Linked DNA regions of Homo sapiens: region 2 is linked to region 1. A link means that fine-mapping ties the variant in region 1 to the expression of a gene that starts in the linked region. Tissue or cell type: whole blood. Region 1 holds a variant in brackets; the other region holds the start of a gene. All regions are shown on one strand. Distances are between the middles of the regions.

What was found. PIP is the estimated chance that this variant, and not a neighbour inherited with it, causes the effect.
Region 2: VCL starts here. The variant in region 1 is fine-mapped to the expression of VCL in whole blood (INTERVAL, PIP above 0.99).

The regions. Positions count from the first base shown.
Region 1 is chr10:74,137,116-74,145,381 of GRCh38, reverse strand. It overlaps AP3M1 (adaptor related protein complex 3 subunit mu 1), which reads left to right. Exons shown (of 9, transcript NM_012095.6): 2 at 7,000-7,275. The coding sequence starts at 7,003. Among named protein-coding and RNA genes, the nearest start is that of AP3M1, 9.6 kb to the left of the region's middle. The variant C/G (reference allele first, on the strand shown) is at 3,211.
Region 2 is chr10:73,994,985-74,002,984 of GRCh38, reverse strand. It overlaps VCL (vinculin), which reads right to left and starts at 4,869. Exons shown (of 22, transcript NM_014000.3): 1 at 4,610-4,869. The coding sequence starts at 4,777. RefSeq lists enhancers at 3,917-4,568, 4,641-4,840 and silencers at 4,521-4,570, 4,901-5,260.

The DNA of each region.
Region 1 (8,266 bases):
TTCATCTCAGCACTAAGGATAACAACAATAAATCTAGGAGGCTGGTTTAACTTTCTGTATTCTGAGACCTGAACTACTGCCAATAAAAACAACTTCGGTGGAAACTTTCCTGGAAAGAATTTTTCACCAGCTTAAGAGGATGAGTAGAGATCTGGCCCTAAAATAAAGTAACTACAAAATCACTTACTTTCAAAACAAGCAACTCTTTCAGAGTGTATTGTGGCAAAGGAGCACTATAAATCCTTGTGAACTATATTTTCGATAGGATGAATGATTTTAGATAACCTGTGTCGGTGCTTTTAAATATAACTTCCACTCTAAATAATTTATTAAACTTCCTCAGCATAACAACTAGAATGTCTTTTGCCTCCTAACTAAACAAGAAATGTCTTTTACCTCCTCCTCTTAAATCATAAGCTAGGCTGGGTGCAGTGGCTCATGCCTGTAATCTCAGCACTTTGGGAGGCTGAGGCGGGCGGATCACGAGGTCAGGAGTTCGAGACCAGCCTGGCCAACATGGTGAAACCCCATCTCTACTAAAAATACAAAAAATTAGCTGGGCATGGTGGCGCATGCCTGTAATCCTAGCTACTCGGGAGGCTGAGGCAGGAGAATCGCTTGAACCCAGCAGGCGGAGGTTGTGGTAAGAGGAAATCGTGCCATTGCACTCCAGCCTGGGCAATAGAGCAAGACTCCGTCTCAAAAAAAAAAAAAAATCATAAGCTAAAGCAGCACATTCATGCACTGTTCAATATATTAACTACTAACCATATATGGTTATTTAAATTTAAATTAATTAAAATTAAAACTTCAGGCTAGGCTTGGTGGCTCACACCTGTAATCCCAGAACTTTGGGAGATCAAGGTGGGAAGATCACTTGAGCCCAGGAGTCCAGGATCAGCCTGGGCAATATAGGCAGACTTTGTCTCTACAAAACAAAAATTTGAAACTCAGCTGTGTGTGGTGATGCACGCCTGTAAGCCCAGCTACTCAGGAGACTGAAGTGGGAGGATCGCTTGGGCTCTGGAGGTGGGCGTTGGAGTGAGCCAAGATGACGCAGCTGCACTCCAGCCTGGGCAACAGAGCGAGACCCTATCTCAAAAAAAAAATAAAAATAAAAAAGCCGGGCATGGTGGCTCACGCCTGTAATCCCAGCACTTTGGGAGGCCGAGGCGGGTGGATCATGAGGTCCGGAGATCGAGACCATCCTGGCTAACATGGTGAAACCCCATCTCTACTAAAAATACAAAAAATTAGCCAGGCGTGGTGGCGGGCTCCTGTAGTCCCAGCTACTCGGGAGGCTGAGGCAGGAGAATGGTGTGAACCTGGGAGGCGGAGCTTGCAGTGAGCAGAGATCACGCCATTGCGCTCCTGTCTGGGAGACAGAGCAAGACTCCGTCTCAAAAAAAAATTAATTAAAATTTCAAAAAAATTAAAACTTCAGTATTGGGTACATTAGCCACATTTCAAGTGCTCAATAGCCATGGGTGTAGTGGCTACCATATTAGCACAGATAAAGGACATTTCCATCATTGCAGAAAGCCCTGTTGGACAGTGCTGTATTAGAACGTGTTCCTAATAATTAGTCTCTACAAGGCAGATAAGAGCAGGAGCTCAGAATTCAGCTGGATTTAGGTTTGAATCCTAGCTTACTGCGTGATCTTAGGTAATTGACCTAACTTTTCTGAGATGACATTGTCTTATCTGTAAAATGGGGATAATAGTAGTATTTATGGTGTAGCATTGTGAAAATAAGATGAGATAAAGTGTCTAGCATAGTGTCTGGCCCATAATAAGTACTCAATACATTTTAGATAGTATTAATTCATTTATTATTCATTATCTTTAATGAATAAAACACTTTGAATGGGGACTGAGTACAGTAGCTTCACTTTGGGAGGCGAAGGCAGGCGGATCACTTGAGGCCAACATGGTGAAACCCCATTTCTACTAAAAACAGAAAAACTAGCTGGGCATGGTGGTGCACACCTGTAATCCCAGCTACTGAGGAGGCTGAGGCACGAGAATTGCTTGCCCATGGGAGACGGAGGTTGCAGTCAGCAGAGATCACACCACTGCACTCCAGCCTGGGTGACAGTGGGAGACTCTGCTCAAACAAACAAACAAGCTTTGTTCCCAAGTAGCTGGGATTACAGGCGCACGCCACCATGCCCGGCTAATTTTTGTATTTTTAGTAGAGACAGGGTTTTGCCATGCTGGCCAGGATGGCCTTGAACTCCTGACCTCAGGTAATCCACCAGTCTTGGCCTCCCAAAGTGCTGGGATTACAGGCGTGAGCCACTGTGCCTGGCCAAAAATAACCACATTGAATGGGGCCAAAAGATTAATTTTTGCAAAGAATGCTGTGTTCCATATGTGACTCACCTGAAGTGCCCAAATCTGAGTCTGCTTGTGGATTACAGTGCTCCACTTGAAGTCATACATTATATATTTCAGATGCTGATTTTCTTCCAAGAAAAAGGTGTAATAATAAAAATTTAGTTGCAGATCTTATGGTTGGATATTCCTGTTTCATTTAAAAAATGAAAATGAAAAGTTTATCAGCTAAAGATTATAGTTAAAATCAGCAGGTTCTATATAGCAAGTCTAAGTATTCTAATGGCACTTATATTAATACCCAGACAGAAATATAAGACACAAAGCAAGCCTACTAAGCAAAGCATCTGACTAGATAAAGTAGAAAAATTTGGCAGGTTCCAACCCTGAGGTGTCAGAGTTTATTGCTAATAACTCAAGTTGATTTCTTGGCTAAACAGAGGGCTTTAAACAAAGAAATTTTTTGGTTCTAATTAAACAGGAACCCTAAACTGTTAACAGTATTCATACTTTATTAATACAATAATTACTAAAACATATCTTAGTAACTAGTATTATTGATAACTACTGAACATGTGTCGAATGGGAAGAGGAGATCATCACCACATATTCTTTAAATGTCAGCCGCTTTCATAAAAGAAAGGGTTGATGTTGTTTTCTGTCAACAGAATCAAATGAATCAATTCTGGAAAGTCTTCCTTTCCTCTTTGGAATTTATCTTCATTCATAGAAACTGTATTCATAGGTCTTAAATTCTTTCTTCTTAGACTATAGTACTATTACTTGGAATGATTGAGCCACTAGACTAAACACCTGATACTGGTGCTTATACACGTAAAAGATAGGAACAAGGTAAGATAATTAGACATTTTT[C/G]CATTGTCCCCCATATTGCAGGGACAATAAACTTCTTATAGGAAGCATAACTAACACTCAGAAAGTATGCAAATCACAATGTAAAGCCTAATGAGTTATCATAGAAGGAACACAGCTTGTAAACATCATGCAGGTCAAGAAATAAAACATTGGCCAGGTGCGGTGTCTCACTCCTGTAATCCTAGCACTTTGGGAGGCTGAGGCAGGCGGATCACGAGGTCAGGAGTTCAAGACCAGCCTGGCCAACATAGTGAAACCTCGTCTCTATTAAAAATACAAAAAAAAAAAAAAACTAGCCAGGTGTGGCGGTGTGTGCCTGTAATCCCAGCTACTAGGGAGGCTGAGGCAGGAGAATCTCGTGAACTTGGGAGGCAGAGGTTTCAGTGAGCCGAGATAACACCATTGCACTCCAGCCTGGGCGACAGTGTAAGACTCCATCTCAAAAAAAAAAAAAAAAGGAAAATAAAAAAGAAATAAAACATTACCAGCACTCTAGGAGATCATCCCCATGGCCCTCCACTCTCCATAAAGGAAACCATTTGATTTAACGTAGATTAGTTTTGCCTGTTCTACAACTTCATATAAATGGAATCATACTGTGTATATTCTTTTGCATCTGGCTTCATTTATTCAACATCGTATTTGTAAGATTCGTTTGTATGTATATATTCTTTGAGTAAATGTCTTTTCAAATCCTTTGCCCATTTTTTAATTGGCTTGTTTATTTATTTATTTTTTATGTTTTAGAGGCAAGGTCTCCCTCTGTCACCCAGGCTAGGGTGCAGTGGTGGGATCATAGTTGACTGCAGCCTCAAACTCCTGGACTCAGGCAATCCTCCCACCTCAGCCTCCCAAGTAGCAGGGACTACAGGTATGAGCCACTATGCCTGGCTAGTTTTTAAATTTTTTTATAGAGACGGGGTCTCAAACTCCTGGGCTCAAGCAATCCTCCCTCCTCAGCCTCCCAGAGTGCTAGGATTACAGTTGTGAGTCACCACACCTGGCCCTTCTTATTATTGAGTAAAAGTTCTTTATATTTTCCGGATAGGGGTCCCTTTAAGATATATGGTTTCAAATATTTACTATCATTTTGTGAATTTTTGCTTTCTTGATAATGTCCTTTGAAGCACTAAGTTTTAAATTTGATGGACTCTGGGTTATCTATTTTTTATTTTTCTTGTCTGTACTTTTGGTATCGTATCTTAAAAAACATTGTCTAATCCAGAGTCAAAATCTATGCATATTTTTTCTAAGAGTTTTATCATTTTGGCTTTTCCAATTAGGTCTTTGATACATTTTGTGTTGCTTTTTGTATCCAATTTCATTCTTTTGTATGTGGAAATCCAGTTGTTCCAGTACCATTTGTTGAAAAGGTTGTTCTCTCTCCAACTGGTCACCCAGGTCTTGGCACCCTTGTTGAAAATCAGTTGACCATAAATGTAAGGGTTAATGTTCTATTGATCTGTAGGTCTGTCCTTGTGCCAATACCACATAGTAGTTTTGTAGTAAGTTTTGAAATCAGGAAGCACGAGTTATCCATCTTCGTTGTTCCTTTTTTTTTTTAATTCAAATATATATATTTTTTCAATCTTTTTAATTCTACATATTTTTGTAAGCATCCCCCCAATTCTTGTTTCATAGTAAATCAGACTGTAGATGAAGCATTTCAGACCTTTTGTCAATCATGTCAAGTGTGAGGGGAAGTCTTTTGTAAGTCAGCCAAGTATTTCAAAATGAAAAGCTTTTCCAAAAGTAAAGGCAGAAGACCCCGCTTTGAAGGCGCTGGTCGGCACAGAAGGGCTTGCAAAGGTATGTAGGGAAGTCCACCGGTTACAGGTGTAAGGTGAGTTTAACCTACGGCGACCAGCTGGCCAGGAGCGCCCCAAGGCAGACGAGGACGTGGGGCTTGGGCGCACGGCCGCCTGCAGCCATCTCGCCCCAGATCCTGGCTCAGGAAACGCAGGCTCGGGCTGGGGTGGATGTGTGCGCCCCAGGGCCCTGGCACCCGGGGGACCGAGGGCTCCTCCCAGGTCCTTGGAACAGCAGAGTGGCTCCCAGGAAGGATGCTCAGCTGCAGGTGGGGGTCCCTGCTCCCAAGCACCCTGGCCAGGGAGGAATGGCGCACCCCACCCCGTTCGCCCCTGTTGTTCCTTTTCAAGATTGTTTTGGCTGTTGATCTTTTTCAATTCCTTATGAATTTAGGATTAGCCTGTCAAATTCCACGAAAAGGCAGCTGGGATTTTTTTTTTTTTTTTTTTGAGATGGAGTCTCAATCTGTCACCCAGGCTGGAGTACAGTGGTGCAATCTTGAGTCTCGGCTCACTGCAACCTCCGCCTCCCGGGTTCAAGCGATTCTTCTGCCTCAGCCTCCTGAGTAGCTGGGACTACAGGTGCGTGCCACCACGCCTGGCTAATTTTAGTAGGGACGGGGTTTCACCGTCTTAGCCAGGATGGTCTCGATCTCCTGACCTCGTGATCCACCCACCTCGGCCTCCCAAAGTGTTGGGATTACAGGCGTGAGCCACCGCGCCTGGCCTTTTTTTTTTTTTTTTAGTAGAGACAGAGTTTCTGCACGTTGGCCAGGCTGGTCTTGAACTCCCGACCTCAGGTGATCCACCTGCCTCGGCCTCCCCAAGTGCTGGGATTATAGGCATGAGCCACCACGCCCGGCCTGAAATTGTTTTATTTCATTTTCAGTTTTGTTTTGTTTTTTTTTTTTTAATAGAGATGAGGTCTCACTATGTTGCATAGGCTGGTCTTAAACTCCTGAGCTCAAGCAATCCTCCTTCCTCAGCCTCCCACAGTGCTGGGTTTATAGGCATGAGTTACAATGCCTAGCCCATTTTTAGTATTTTATAGCTATAGTGGATAGAAATATAATTGATTTTTATATTGACTTGTGTCCTGCAAGCTTGCTGAACTAAATTTATTAGCTCTAATAGGTTTTTTTTTGTGTGTGTGTGGATTCCTTAGGATTTTCTATATATAAGATTGTATCTTCTACAGATACAGTTTTACTTCTTCCTTTCCAATTTGGAAGCCTTTTGTTTTATTTTCTTGCTTAATTGCCCTGGTTCAAACCTCTAGTACCATGTTGAATAGAAATGATGGGACTGGGCATCCTTGTTAGGTTTTGTTATTAAGGAGAAAGTGTTCGGTCTTTCACCTTTAAATATAATATTAGCTGTGGGGTTTTCATCAGGTTAAGGAAATTTTTTTTTTTTTTTTTTTTTTTTTTAGATAGTGTCTCACTTGGTCACCCAGGCTGGAGTGCAGTGGCGCAATCTTAGCTCTCTACAGCGTCGATCTTCCTCCTGGGCTCAAGCAATTCTCCTGCTTCATCCTCCTGAGTACCTAGGACTACAGGCAAGTGCCACCATGCTTGGCTAATTTTTGTATTTTTTGTAAAGATGATGTTTTGCCCTGTTGCCCAGGCTGGTCTCAAACTCCTGAGCTCAAGCAATCCGCCCACCTCAGCCTCCCAAAGTGCTGAGATTACAGGCATGTGCCACTGAGCCTGGCTGAGGAAGTTTCTTTTTGTTCTTAAATGGCTTTCTTTTTTTTTTTTTTTTTTCGTAAAAGGATGTTGGATTTTGTCAAATGCAATTTCTGCACCTTTTGAAATGATTGTTTTAGTTCTTATTGTATATCATGTTGATTGATTTTTGTATGTTGAACCAGCCTTGCATTCTTAGAATAAATCCCACTTGGTCAAGGTGTATAATCTTTTTGTGTATGTTAAATGATATTTAATGTATAATAAATTTAAACCTTTCTTTGCCCCAACAGAAAATGATCCACAGTCTATTTCTCATAAACTGTTCCGGTGACATATTTCTAGAGAAGCACTGGAAGAGCGTTGTGAGCCAGTCTGTCTGTGATTATTTCTTTGAAGCTCAAGAGAAAGCTGCTGATGTTGAAAATGTACCACCTGTCATTTCAACACCTCACCACTACCTCATCAGTATCTACCGGGATAAGCTCTTCTTTGTATCTGTCATACAGACCGAAGTGCCACCTCTCTTTGTAATTGAGTTCCTACATCGAGTTGCTGACACTTTTCAGGTTGGTTATCTATCATACCTTTCTAAGTTAAATGACCCAAGTTAGCTGAAGGTGAGACATGATTATATTATTTAATTACCCAGGTTTTGATGTTTACTGTCTGTCTCTCTCTGTTTAAGCGTAAATTCATAAGCCCTTTTCTGTGTGGTATACAGTTACACACATGGCTGCTCTATTCACTATTTTTTATATGTATTACAGATTACAGTTGGCTCTCCATATACATGGGTTCTGCATCCATAAAGTCACCCAACCTTACATGGCAAATATTTGAACAAAAAAATCGAACTGAACATGTACAAACTTCTTCTCATTATTACTTGAACAATACAGTATAACAAATAGTTACATAGCATTTACACTGTGTTAGATATTACAAGTAATCTAGAGGTGATTTAAAGTATATAGGAGGATGTGTATAAGTTATGTGCAAATACTATGCCATTTTATGTCAGCGACTTGAGAATTGTGAACTTTGGTATCTACAGGGGATCCTGGAACTAATTCCCACAAATACCAAGGGATGACTGTATATCATCAGGAAACAATAATGCCCTCCGCATACAGTTCTCTCAATGGTCTCAAGATTTTCATTGGTTATGAACTCTTCTATATTTACATTTTATTATTTTGTCTTGCGGAATATACCAAATAATTTAAGCTTATCTATATGTATTTTGGGATAATCAGGGTGAATGAAGTTTATAGCTCAAATTCCAATTTAATGTTTCAATACTTTCTGGTATAATATGTAATAGGAATTAAATTCAACCTAGAAATATCAAGAAAATATTGAGGAATAATATTAGGACTATAGAGGGGTTTTTTTTGTTTGCTTGTTTTGTTTTGTTTTGTTTTGTTTTGTTTGAGACGGAGTCTCACTCTGTTCCCTAGGCTGGAGTGCAGTAGCATGATCTTGGCTCACCGCAACCTCCGCCTCCCGGGTTCAAGCAATCCTCCCGCCTCAGCCTCCCAAGTAGCTGGGACCACA
Region 2 (8,000 bases), 140 kb after region 1:
AGTGACCAGACTACTTTGCTTAGCAAATATACATGAAATTACAAATCCTAATGAGTTCTGCCCCCATAAAAGTAAGTAATGTCTTTCTTTTTTTTTTTTTTTTTGAGACAGAGTCTTCCTTTGTCACCAGGCTGGAATGCAGTGGCAAGATCTCAGCTCAGTGCAACCTCCACCTCCCGGATTCAAGCGATTCTCCCGCCTCAGCCTCCCGAGTAGCTGGGACTACAGGCGCGTGCCACCATGCCCAGTTAATTTTTGTATTTTTAGTAGAGACGGGGTTTCACCCTGTTGGCCAGGATGGTCTCCATCTCTTGACCTCGTGATCAGCCCGCCTCGGCCTCCCAAAGTGCTGGGATTACAGGCATGAGCCACCATACTTGGCCAAGTAATACCTTTCTTACCACATCTCTAAATATTCAAATCCTATCTGTCTTTAAGACCCAACTCAATGTTATATCCTCTGTGAAGCCTTCCCTGATTCTCCAATCAAAAGTAATCTCGTCTTCCTCTGACTTTCCATCATACTCTGTTTCCTCAGTGCCACTTAAGATTTCCAATTCAGCCGGGCGTGGTGGCTCACGCCTGTAATCCCAGCACTTTGGGAGGCCGAGGCGGGCGGATAACCTGAGGTCAGGAGTTCAAGACCAGCCTAACCAACATGGAGAAACCCCGTCTCTACTAAAAATCCAAAATTAGCCGGGCGTGGTGGCACATGCCTGTAATCCCAGCTACTAGGGAGGCTGAGGCAGGAGAATCACTTGAACCTGGGAGACAGAGGTTGCGGTGAGCCAAGATCATGCCACTGCACTCCAACCTGGGCAATAAGAGCGTAACTCCATCTCAGAAAAAAAAGACTTCCAATTCAGTATCATACTGATTGTGACAGGCATCACACTTATTGCTTTGACATTGGAAGGGGTCTCAATAAACACCTGCTTGATAAGTGAATGACTATTACAACAATTGAAAATTTCATCTTCATCTAGTAAATTTTAATTATGGAAATATCCAAAAGTCATTTAGGCTCAAGAACAGTAAATGAAGTAGTTGAGCTCAAGAATGCCTACTTCAGTCAAAATGTACACTTTCTTGACCAAAATAAGACTAATTTGGCATACGTATGTAAATAATCTGAAAGAAATTCCCAAAGAAAAGCACTAGAATAAGGATATAACCTCCCAAAGTAACTCCCAAGAAATACTCACCCAGATTACATAAATTCCAGAAGATTTGTTCTAAAATCAGTTTCATTATTTTACCGTAATACTATGTTTCTTTTCTAGCAAATTCAGAGTTCAATTATCCAGTTCTATTATTTCTTCTTCTAATATATTTCTGATTAATTCCTTCTCCATTTTCCCTGCCACTCGCAAGTCCAGGCCTTCATTTTCTTCATAACCAACCAATTTTAAAAGCTTCCCAATTTGTCTCCCTTCCCATAGTTCCTTCAACAATATTTATTGAGTGATCCTATGTGCCAATTTTGAGGGCAGGAACTGAGGACCATATAAAGAAATATCAGACCAGGCACAGTAGCTCACAACTGTAATCCAGCACTTTGAGAGGCCAAGGCGGGAGGATTGCTTGAGCCCAGGGATTCGAGACCAGCCTGGGCAACATAACAAGACCCTGTCTCTATTTAAAACCAAAATAAAATTTTTTAAAAAGAGAGGAATATCAGACAAGGCTTGACCTCCAGGAACAATCTTGAAGCATGTACAGAATCCACATATTTAACGGTCACAGTTGGCACCAAGAATGTGAAGCAATGGGTAGGTCCTCTGGCCTCCCCAAAACACACTATACTATTCTCACACGCCATTCTCACGCAGTCTTTCTCACACACTATTCTCATCCTCCTTCCCCTCCTGCTCTCTTTGTTCATCCTTTTGGATAAGGCCTATGTTACACTGCCCATATGTCACGCACTAACTTCATCTCCAATTTCTCTCCAACTTGTCTCCTGAGCTGCAATCAAGATAATCTACTTGCTGTAACCTGGAAGTGACTTACTCACAAGTACCTTTGTTCATGATTAACTATTTATCAGCACAATCCTCCCTACTTTGTCTCTGCTAACCCATAGCTACCACCAATCTCAAGTCCCCTCTTTTGTATGTGTTGGAAAGTATATAACTTAACTACATATCATTGTTTTCATCTTATAACCTTATTTCTTTTGTATTTGTCTCACAGTGTGTATTACAGTGTTTCCTAACTAAGGCCGTATATCACAATCACCTATGGAGCTTCCTAAAAAATACGAAGGCCTGGCCGGGCACAGTGGCACATGCCTGTAATCTCAGCACTTTGGGAGGCCGAGGCGGGCAAATCACAAGGTCAAGAGATGGAGATCATCCTGGCCAACATGGTGAAACCCCGCCTCTACTAAAAATACAAAAATTAGCTGGCCACGGTGGTGCGAACCTGTAGTCCCAGCTACTCGGGAGGCTAAGGCAGGAGAATCACTTGAACCTGGGAGGAGGACGTTGCAGTGGGCCCAGATCGTGTCACTGCACTCCAGCCTCGTGACAGAGGAAGACTCCATCTCAAAAACAAACAAACAAACAAACAAACAAAGGCCTTCAGCTACTTGGGAGGCTGAGGTGGGAGGATTTTTCTCAGTCCAGGAGATGGAGGCTGCAGTGAGCTATGATCACGCCATTGCACTCCAGCGCCTGCGTGACAGAGCGAGACCCTGTCTCAAAAAAAAAAAAAAAAAAAAGCAAAATACAAAGGCCTTGACCCGTGGGAGCTGGACATCTTAATTTCTAAAAAGCCTCACTGATGATTTTCATGAACACTCTTAAGCTGAGAAGCACTGATTTATTGCAGTGTTTTCCATATAGCAGACATTCAATGCTTATTAATTCATGGCATGGAAGCCCATAAATAACTTTTCTCTAAATAGCCTAACCAGATATCAACCCCTAGACTACACTAGCTCTGTTCCAAGTGCAACATGTGGTTTTAAGATTTCATTTCCTGAAGTACTACATGGAGAGACACTATTACCTTGTCTCTTTACATTGTTTCCTATTTGTTGAAAAATGGAGGCCTGGAATGCAGCCATGTTAGACAACACTACATAAGAATGTACTCTGGAGTGTTCTGTTCAAATTAGTTATAAAAAGAAGAACAATGTACAAGTAGACATTGTGAATGAATACAGCATTCTTACTGAATGAATAGATTCTTACTAAAGCTATAGAGAAGAAAGATCAGGAATTTGGTCGGTGGTGTCACCCTGTCTTCCTAGCTACCAGTCTCCTAAATTGCTTGAGACAGTCCAGGGACCCCTGAAGACTGAGGAAGACTTTCAGCTGCTAAAGAGCCTCTAAGTGCACTAAAGTGCTCAAATCAGAAAAGTAACCCAAGCCCCACCCAGACAGACCCACAGTTGCCGCCCAACTGCCCTGACACACACTATTTACACAGCTCAGTGGGGGAGCAGTATGAACTTTTTCCAAAATTGTTCCTCACAAGCAGGACCAGTCTGAGTCACCCACCCAGGGTGGGAAAGAAAAGTGTGACATTAGCCAGGGGAGTCTTGGGAGACTGGTCTCAGCACCTCTTTTTTCCCATTTCAGACGTGGGCTCCACCTCCTCCAGGAATCACCTCGGTTATGAGTCACAGCTGTGGGTTACAGGGGTCTGCAGAGCCACCAGGAAAGTTGTGGATGGGGAGCGGATGCCCCAGCCTTCTCTCCGGCAGGGGCGGCAGATCCCAGATTCCACAGGCCTCTCCCAACAGCTCCATCTTGCTTCCTGCCAGGAGGAGGGGCCAAGGAGGGCCCCCGAGTCTAGAAAGGCCCCAGTGGGAGGAGGCCGTTTGACAGCAGGTAACGCCAGGTGAAAATGTCCACAGGAGGGAATGAAAGGAAGGGCAGCAGGGCTGAGCGGAAGGAAAAACCGGGCTTGTGGTCACGAATGACTGCATAAAGGTGTGAGAGTGCCAGAGGAGTGAGCATAAGTAAAATGCCCAGGAGGGAGGAGGAGGCGACAGAGAGTGAGGCAAGTGAATAAAAGGGCGGAATACAGGGAGCTCTGGGGAGCGGGGGTGGGCGAGGCGGGTCTCAGGGTGAGGGGCAGAAGTATTAGAAAGGAGGACAACGTGGCTCAAATAAGGATCCCTAGAAGAGAAGGCAAGGGATCCGTGGGAAGGCCCGCTCTCCCTCCCCCGCACAGCCAGATCGAGGAGGCCTAAAAGGCGCTGAGAGCGAGGAAGTCAACGTGGGGGCGAAGCCTGCGCGGGGCAGGGACCCTCGGACATCCCAGCAACTCTCATTTATTGGGTGTCTGCTGTGGGCCACACGCCGCGCGAGGCACTCCACGAATAATACCTCGCCATATCTTCACGACAAGCCCGCAAGGCAGCCTTTTTCATGACTGCTCCCATTTTATAGATGAGGACACTGAGGCCCGGAGAGGCTCAGGACTCGCTCAAGGTCACAGGGCGGAGAAGAGGCCATTCGAACCCTCGGCGCCTGGCTCCGGAACCCACGCGGAAAGCCACGGCCAGCGAGCCGGCCACAGGCAGCCGCGACGCGGGCCGGGGCCCCGGGGATACCTCCCGCGCCCGCTCCCGCGCCAGGCCCTGCGCGCTCACCCGGACGAGGTTGCTGACGGCCGCCTGCACGGCGGCCACGGGCGCGGTGAGGTCAGGAATGGCTTTGCCGTCCACCTCGCCCTCCTCGTGCATTATCACCAGGTGGGAGATCTGCTGTGCCACCGGCTCCAGGATGCTCTCGATCGTGCGCGTATGAAACACTGGCATCGCGGCGGCGAGCGGGGCGGCGAACCGCGGGCGACAGAGAAGTAGGATCCACGGGGCCGGGAACCGGCGAAGAGACAGACTGTGCAGCGACTACGGAGTCGGGGCTTCCCTCGGCGTAACCAGCCTCACGGGCTCCCCGCCCCCTCTCGTCGCCGCGCCCAATGGCAGCGCAGCTCAGACCTGGGCCGCCACTCCTACTGGTCCCTTTTCGAGATGCTCCGCCCCAGCCACCGCGCCGCCAAACCCCGCCCCTCCCCCATTCCTAAGGGAGGGGCCTGGGATTGGGGCTGAGCCGCCGGGATTGCTACCGGATTCCCGAGCCCTAACGCCGGGCGCTCCTTATAAGGGCATGGTGGGAGCGGAGCGGGCCGCTGGAGCCGGCTGGTCCCGCCCCCGGGCCGCCTCCCGCCTCGGATCTGGGGGGCTCCGCCCCTCTGCAGAATCACCTCAGCGGGGCGGGGTCTCCTCACCTCAAGCGGCGCTAGAGTTTGATGAGACCAAGGGGTCTCCCACGTCCCCTCCTCAACTTTTCCCTTCACACGAAACCCTCAAAATACTCCTTCCATTCCCTCCCAGCAATGCATGGGAAGGTTTTTAGTAAAAGATTCAAACAGCAGAGGTGCACTGAGAAACAGCAGCGTCCCATTCACGTAAACGCAGACTCCGCCCCCTGCCCTCCTCAAAGACATTCTGTTTAACAGCTGGGTGTGTAGCCTTCTAGACTTGTCTATAGATTCACTTCTACATATATATTTTCTAACTAAATGAGATTAATAAACATTTTCCTGGAACTAGGTATGATTGCCCTTGATTAAAATGCCCTTATCTTTCACTGCTGGTAGAGGTCTACCTCATTCTTCTTAATGACTGCATGATATTCCATTGCATGAAATAAAACTATTTACAGAACCAATTTCCTACTCATGGACTTGGGTTGGGTCCTGGTTTTCACTATTAAAAAACAATTCTGCATGAATTGTACTTACCCCTGTGCTGTGCATCTGTGTATTTATCTAGCGCAAATGCCTACCAGGAAAGAGAAAAACGCAAAAGTATATGCATTTTATATTTTGATAGGTAAGACCAAATTATCCAGTTCCCTCACGCTTTGTATAAGACATCTTCCAGGCCGGGCGCGATGGCTCACGCCTGTAATCCCAGCACTTTGGGAGGCTGAGGCGGGCGGATCACGAGGTCAGGAGATCTAGGCCATCCTGTCTAACACGGTGAAACCCCGTATCTACTAAAAATACAAAAAAAATAGCCAGGCGTGGTGGCGGGCGCCTGTAGTCCCAGTTACTCATGAGGCTGAGGCAGGACAATGGCGTGAACCCGGGAGGCGGAGCTTGCAGTGAGCGGAGATCGCGCCACTACACTCCATCCTGGGCGACAGAGCAAGACTCTGTCTCAAAAAAAAAAAAAAAAAAAAAAAGACATCTTCCAAACGTCTTACTTACTTCAAATTCGCTTTTGCCCAAGCTTTCCCATTCTGAGGTAAACACTTTCAGTAATGCCTCCAAGCAAAAGATTCTCACATCAAATGAAAATTTTTGTCTAGTCCTACCACAACCACCACAGCTGTTTTCTCTGCCCATTACTTTGTGTTAATAGTATAAATATTTGGGTGATGGGGCCAGGCACGGTGGCTCACGCCTGTAATCCCAGCATTTTGGGAGGCTGAGGCAGGCAGATCACCTGAGGTCAGGGGTTCAAGACCAGCCTGGCCAACCTGGTGAAACCCCGTCTCAACTAAAAATACAAAAATTAGCCAGGTGTGGTGGCAGGTGCCTGTAATCCCAGCTAATCGGGAGGCTGAGACAGGAGACTTGCTTGAACCTGGGAGGTGGAGGTTGCAGTGAGCTGATACCGTGCCATTGCACTCTAGCCTGAGCAACAGAGTGAGACTCCCTGTCCAAAAAAAAAAAAGTTGAGTGATGGAACGATATGATTTTTTTATTTTAAAAATTATTTTATTTTATTTATTTTTATTTATGTTTTTATTTTTTGAGATAGGGTCTCACTCCGATTGTCCAGGCTGGAGTGCAGTGGTGTGATTTCGGCTCACTGCAGCCTTGACCTCCCCAGGCTCAGGTGATTCTCCCACCTCAGCATCCCAAGTAGCTGGGACCACAGGTGCATGCCACCACGCCCGGCTAATTTTTGTATTTTTGATAGAGACAAGGTTTCGCCATGTTGTCCAGGCTGATCTCAAACTCCTGGACTCAAGAAATCCACCTGCCTTGGCCTCCCAAAGTATAAATGGCCTCCCAAAGTATATATAGCCTCCCAAAAAGTGTATGATTTTGTTAAATCCTCACCCTGTCCCCACTTTGCTGATTGTATATTTATGTGTAGTTTAACTTGTTCTTCTGAACTATATATTTCCTACAGATTGGCAGGAAGACTCAGAGGCTTGATCATGTAATCATCTTTAATGCCTGACTGGCCATATTAACCTCCCAAAAAGAATATCACATTGCACATCCAGCCCATGTGCTCCCCAACATCCATAATCATACCCATTTCCGTCCCCCTGATTTCCACATTCACTGGCTCCCTCTAAAATCTTTCTTGGTGCCTGTTAGCATGTGTTAACACCAATGCCCTCCACAATCTGGGTCCAGACCAACCTTACTGCCTTCAGCTTCCCCACCTTAGACCCACAGACAGGCAGGTTAAACAGTGCAAACAGCATAAATTCAGAGCCATCCAGAGCTCAAGCCAGAACCCCAGCTTCACAACTTGATGGAGATATAACTCCGGCAAGTGGGATAATAGCACCGTCACAGAGCTGATGTAAGGGAATTTGTAAAGCACCTAGGAGACCTTCAGTAAAAGAAACCATTATCATTATTAGAGCAGTCACAAACTGACATATTCACAGTCTCCAGAAATTCCTGGTAGAGTTTCACTTTTGAGCTTTTCTCCACATTTCTTTCCCACCTAGAAAGCTATCAGTGCTTGTCTAACTCTTACCTATTGTGGTAGACAGAATTCTAAGATGTCCCCCGGGATTTCTCACTCCGAATATACACACTCTCCATAATCCCCAGGCTGTGACTATAAGGGATTTTACTTTCATAATCAGATTACATTATATAGCACAGTTGGTCTTAAAACAGGGAGATTATCCAAGTGGGCTTGACCTAATCACATGAGCTCTTTTAAAGCAGAGAGTTTTCTCTGGCCAGTTACAACAAATGAACTCAAAAGCACAAGAGGA